Linked DNA regions of Homo sapiens: region 1 is linked to region 2. Evidence: fine-mapped expression QTL. A gene starts in region 2. The other region holds a variant in brackets. All regions are shown on one strand. Distances are from middle to middle. Region 1 overlaps RIMKLA (ribosomal modification protein rimK like family member A). Region 2 holds the start of ZMYND12 (zinc finger MYND-type containing 12).

What was found. PIP is the estimated chance that this variant, and not a neighbour inherited with it, causes the effect. A credible set is the group of variants that fine-mapping cannot tell apart.
Region 1: its variant is the best candidate, but not a certain one, in a credible set for the expression of ZMYND12 in whole blood (TOPMed, PIP 0.58).

Annotation. Positions count from the first base shown.
Region 1 is chr1:42,423,910-42,426,821 of GRCh38, forward strand. It overlaps RIMKLA (ribosomal modification protein rimK like family member A), which reads left to right. Exons shown (of 5, transcript NM_173642.4): 5 at 1-323. Among named protein-coding and RNA genes, the nearest start is that of ZMYND12, 31 kb to the right of the region's middle. The variant T/C (reference allele first, on the strand shown) is at 1,489.
Region 2 is chr1:42,454,671-42,457,582 of GRCh38, forward strand. ZMYND12 (zinc finger MYND-type containing 12) reads right to left here and starts at 1,352. Exons shown (of 8, transcript NM_032257.5): 1 at 1,218-1,352. The coding sequence starts at 1,327. It overlaps PPCS (phosphopantothenoylcysteine synthetase), which reads left to right and starts at 1,873. Exons shown (of 3, transcript NM_024664.4): 1 at 1,873-2,403; 2 at 2,577-2,680. The coding sequence starts at 1,896. It also overlaps a transcript of CCDC30 not described here. RefSeq lists enhancers at 1,474-1,703, 1,944-2,013, 2,104-2,223.

The DNA.
Region 1 (2,912 bases), 31 kb before region 2:
CCTCAAGGGCCTAAGCATCTTTTGTTAGAAAATTCTGGCTGAAATTCTCATGAGATGGGTCAGGGAACCTTGGAGTGGCAGCACTTGTGTCACATCTAAAGGCACTCCTCTGACTAAAGAGAAGTGGCAGCTGAGCACACTGCCTGCCCAGGGATTTTCTTCTGCTCTAAAGGACATTATTAAGACAACTGGTCTGTACTGTATTGCCTGATAGTATCATATCAATGTCAATTTCCTCATTTTGGTGATTGTTCTAATAAGAATACGTAAGAATGTGTCCTTGTTTTTAGAAAATACACATTAAATATCGAGGGATAGAGGTACATCATGTTTGCAATTTACTTTCAAATGGCTCAGAAAATAATGGGTTTCTAGAGAGAGAAAATAAAGCAAATGTGGTAAGATGTTAACATTTGGGAGATCTGGGTGAAAGGTATTATAGGAATTCTTTGCATGAGTAGGCTGAGTAAGTCTGAAATTACATCAGCCTCCTGTGCTGGGTTCACCTCCTCTCCATTAAATGTTGTTTCCTCCGGCATTTCCTTAGGCTTTCTGCTATTCCCTAGCTGCGGGTTTCATCCCTACATGATCTCCATTTGCTTGGTATTAATTACAACGTACATGATACTTTCAAATTTATCTCTGAACCCAGGCTTCTTTTCTTTTCTTTTTTTGTTTTGTTTTGTTTTGAGACAGAGTCTCACTCTGTTGCCCAGGCTGGAGTGCAGTGGCATAATCTCAGCTCACTGCAGCCTCCACCACCAAGGTTCAAGCAATTCTCCTGCCTCATCCTCCCAAGTAGCTGGGACTACAGGCGCCCACCACCACGCCCAGCTGATGTTTTTGTATTTATAGTAGAGACGGGGTTTCACTGTGTTGGCCAGGGTGGTCTCGAACTCCTGACCTCAGGTGATCCACCTGCCTCGGACTCCCATAGTGCTGGAATTACAGGTGTGAGCCACCGTGCTCTGCCCAGGCTTCTTTTCTTAAGGTCAGATGGCATATCCAGTTGCCCACCCTTCATCTCTCTTCAAATGTCTGATAAGCGTCTCAAATTCACCATGTTTCAAGCTGAATTCATGTTTTTATCTCTCCCCAACAAACCTCCCCTCTTTCAGGGCCTCCTCAGTTGAGTGCACAATGCCAACCACTTGCTGAAACCACACACACACAAAATAAAACAGAACTACAGTGGTCATTTTTGGCTGCTACCTTCCTCAACCCTTACCTCCAACTTGGTTTCTTGTGGTAAAACTTGACTTTTAAACCATGAACCACCTTTTTTCACTGAAAACTTTTCTTTTTCTTTTTTGCCATGTTCATTAAGATGTTCCAGGAGATACACAATCCTGAAAAAGGTCTGCAAGGGATAATGCTTATAATATATAATTCTGGTTTTACATCTTGCTCCCAATACTAACCTTGTTCGTATGTTTTTAAAACCTGCTACTGCTTATTTAAATATTAGCTATTAAAAGTGTGTGTGTA[T/C]GTATGTACATAATATAAAATATTTATCACATTGCACTGATCTTGATGAATATTAGGAAAGACATATGTTTTGTGTTTGGCAAAATGATTGCATGGTTCCGTCATCCAAATAATGCTTCACCATCTTTTCTGAAGCATTTTCTTTGCCAATTGTTTGTTTTGTGTGACCTATTGTGTTTGAGAAATGTTGTACCTCACAGAGTCATCATGAGAACAGAGACACCTCATTTGTACAATGTGTATCTGTAATGGGACATGGCAAGGCCTGGTGCTAGCAGTTTGGTTCCAATCTTGGTCATCTGAGGCCCTGTGGCACAGCAGAAAGCCATGGAGCGCAATGATAAAATGTTATATAGTGAGAGCGTAGAGCAGCAACTCAGAGTGAATTTTTGTTAAATAAAGATTCATAGACGATATGATATATTTGTAACAGTGCATATGTGCTTGCTAGTGGAAAATTTTAATCAGGCCTTTCAGAGATGATCCTTCAGCTCCACCCTTATGAATTCTGCTGAAGACGCTTAGGAAAGATGTGATCACCAGGTGGGAAGATAAGAGACACTCTATAGGGAACCCAGAAATCCTGGCTCATTTCAACCTACTTATACCCTTCAGGGTCAAGTAAACCACATTTTTTTTTTTTTTTTTTTTTTGAGATGGAGTCTTGCTCTGTCGCCCAGGCTGGAGAATGCAGTGGCATGATCTCCGCTCACTGCAAGCTCCGCCTCCCAGGTTCACGCCATTCTCCTGGCTCAGCCTCCCGAGTAGCTGGGACTACAGGCACCCACCACCACGCCTGGCTAATTTTTTTGTATTTTTAGTAGAAACAGGGTTTCACTGTGTTAGCCAGGATGGTCTTGATCTCCTGACCTCATGATCCACCCGCCTCAGCCTCCCAAAGTGCTGGGATTACAGGCGTGAGCCACTGCGTCCGGCCAAGTAAACCACATTTTGTAGAGCTGTTCAGAACTGAGATGATTTCCTGCATCAATAAATCATATATAAAAATGAAATATATTTTCATTGAAGAGTAAAAAAAATTAGGGCAAAATAAGAACATTTTTGAATTAATGAAAGAAAGAAAATCTGAGAATTTGCCATCTTTAGGCCCTCACTATAGGAAATACTGAAATATTTATCAGTAATGTGAGCCAAGATGGAAGATGTGAAAAGAAGGAACATGATGACTTTACAAAATAATTATGACATGAGTTTAAGATATATTTGAAATAATAAGAAGGTATAAGTTAGTGGGAGGTAAATATAGTTAAAAGATTCTAAAGACCTTCTATTGTCAGGGATGAGAGTTTCCCAAATAACTTTAAATTTTGATAAGTAAGGAACAAATGCTTGGATTTCTGGGGCAATCACTAAAAGAACAGAAACACAGAATATAAACTACAAGCTCGCAGAGTGGAAGAAAT
Region 2 (2,912 bases):
AAACTTCTACTACCTATCACAATGATGTTCCAACTTTTTTTTTTTTTTTTGAGACACAGTTTCACTCTTGTTGCCCAAGCTGGAGTGCAATGGAGCGATCTCGGCTCACTGCAACCTCCGCCTCCCGGGTTCAAACGATTCTCCTGCTTCAGCCTCCCGAGTAGCTAGGATTACAGGTGCACGCCACCACATCCGGCTAATTTTGACTCAACCTATAGTAAGAAATACATTTTTCCTGTACACACACACATGTCCACATAAAACACTAAGACAAAAGTTTTAAGAAACAATTCAGGTAGGATTAACCTGATACTTTCTACTCATTCTGTGCTCTTTTTTGTTGTTGTTGTTTTCTCTAAATGGTGATTGTGACTTATTCATAAACTGCTAAAGGGCCCTGGCCTGCAGTTTGAAAATCACTGACTGCTCCCTCCACTACTACGTTCTCCACTCGGCCCTTAGCAAACTCTGTTCTTTTGCCATTTGCCCTAGCAGTCCCGGATGCCGGGAATGCCCTACCCTTCTTCACTACTCCTGTACACAGCAGGTTCTGACTGCCCTCTCAAAATGCAGCTCAAATGTTTCTTCCACAGGGAAAGCTTTCCACATACTGCCCCATTCACTATCGTCTCACTCTCGTTGCCCAAGCTGGAGTGCAGTGGCGCGATCTCCGCTCACTGCGAGCTCCGCCTCCCGGGTTCAAGCGATTCTTCTGCTTCAGCCTCCCGAGTAGCTGGGATTACAGGCGCCCAGCACCACTCCCGCCTAATTTTTGTATTTTTTAGTAGAGACAGGGTTTCACCATGTTGGCCAGGCTGGTCTCGAACTCCTGACCTCAGGCGATCCGCCCGCCTCGGCCTCCCGAAGTGCTGGGATTACAGGCGTGAGCCACCGCGCCCGGCCTGTTTCTTTACTGATTTGTCTCCCACATTGGAATGTTAGATCTTTGAAGGAACTGATCTACCGAGCTGCCCCAGTAACTTTAGCACCTAAAATAGTGCATAACACAGAGTACGCCTTCAGAAAACATGAGTGACGAATAAGTGGGAGATGAGACAGACGAGGCCACGGGAGTCTTAGGGGCCTGTCTTAAAGCCGTTTTGAGGTGTCCCTTGCAGAGTCAGGGGCAACGGCTAACGCAAGGTACCCAAGCCAGACCCGGGAAAGGGAGAGAGGGAGGGAGTTATAGCGCCCAGGTGCCACGTTTCAGGGCCTACCAGTAATAAGTGACTGTGCAGGCCGCGCACACCCGCTCGGCTGGGGCTTCGCACACCTCACAGCAGAGTCTGCGCCCCTTGGGGACTGCCAGTGGGTAGATCACATTCATGGTGCAGCCAGCAGTGCTGGTCTCTAAGACGGTTGCCCAGCAAGGATACGCTGAACCCCGGCGTCACGTGACGATCGCGGGGCTGCGTACTTGCCAGCATTTCAAGGGCAGAGGGCGGCGGGACGTGACTCGACTAACATCTGGGTGTATTGCTGAAGTTGGAAAAGGGGAAGAAAGAAAGAAAAAGCAGCACAAAACCCACAAGTCCCACGGGTCAAATGGCCGAGAAACGACTCCCAAGGAGTCCAAGTCCAGAAAGGCCCGTACAGTGGCCGGTAAGGGTCAAACATGGCCAGTTCTTCACCCAGGCTAGGAAACGAACGTGAGGGAACGTGACCCTACCAGATGCCCACCCAGCCGGGGATCCCCCTCGTTGCAGTGTCACTTTCGCTGGGCTCTGGGGCAGAACAACTACGCATTTCCAGACTTGGCGAGATCGGGACCTAGTGTCAAAAGAAGGGTAGTGAACCGCCCACTCAGTACGGCGCGGCGCGTACACCAGGTAGGCGAGAAGGGGCGTGGCGCGGCGGCCGCGAAACGTGCGCAGGCGCCGGCCGCTGCGCTGCAGATGGCGGAAATGGATCCGGTAGCCGAGTTCCCCCAGCCTCCCGGTGCTGCGCGCTGGGCTGAGGTTATGGCTCGCTTCGCGGCCAGGCTGGGCGCGCAGGGCCGGCGGGTGGTGTTGGTTACGTCAGGCGGCACCAAGGTCCCACTGGAAGCGCGGCCGGTGCGCTTCCTGGACAACTTCAGCAGCGGGCGGCGCGGTGCAACCTCGGCCGAGGCCTTCCTAGCCGCCGGCTACGGGGTCCTGTTCTTGTATCGCGCTCGCTCTGCCTTCCCCTATGCCCACCGCTTCCCACCCCAGACTTGGCTGTCCGCTCTGCGGCCTTCGGGCCCAGCCCTTTCGGGCTTGCTGAGCCTGGAGGCCGAGGAGAATGCACTTCCGGGTTTTGCTGAGGCTCTGAGGAGCTACCAGGAGGCTGCGGCTGCAGGCACCTTCCTGGCAGTAGAGTTCACCACTTTGGCGGACTATTTGCATCTGTTGCAGGCTGCGGCCCAGGCACTCAATCCGCTAGGTGCGTGCCCTAGGAGTACCCCTTTTGCCTGGAAGCACAGCCTTTCTTTCCAGCCACTTATCCCCTTACCTCCTGCTTACCCACGGATCTCAGCTGGGGAACCCGAGTTGAGAAGGAGCTGATCCTATATCGTACCTCGCCGATTTGTTAACACCTTGTGTTTCTCTTTGCAGGCCCTTCTGCGATGTTTTACCTGGCTGCGGCTGTGTCAGATTTCTATGTTCCTGTCTCTGAAATGCCTGAACACAAGATCCAGTCATCTGGGGGCCCACTGCAGGTGATGGGCGCTTCTCTTCCAGAGATCTAATCCCATATAACCAATCTTGGGTTAATTTCCTCTTGATCTGGAGATGGCCTTTCTGCATCTGTATTCGCTAGGCACAGGGGATACAGAGATGAATAAGACACCGCCCTCCCTCATGGACCTCACAATCTAGTGAGGGAGCTGGACACAGACATAATTACAATACAGAGTGATAAATGCTCTAGTGGAGGTATGTACAAAGTGC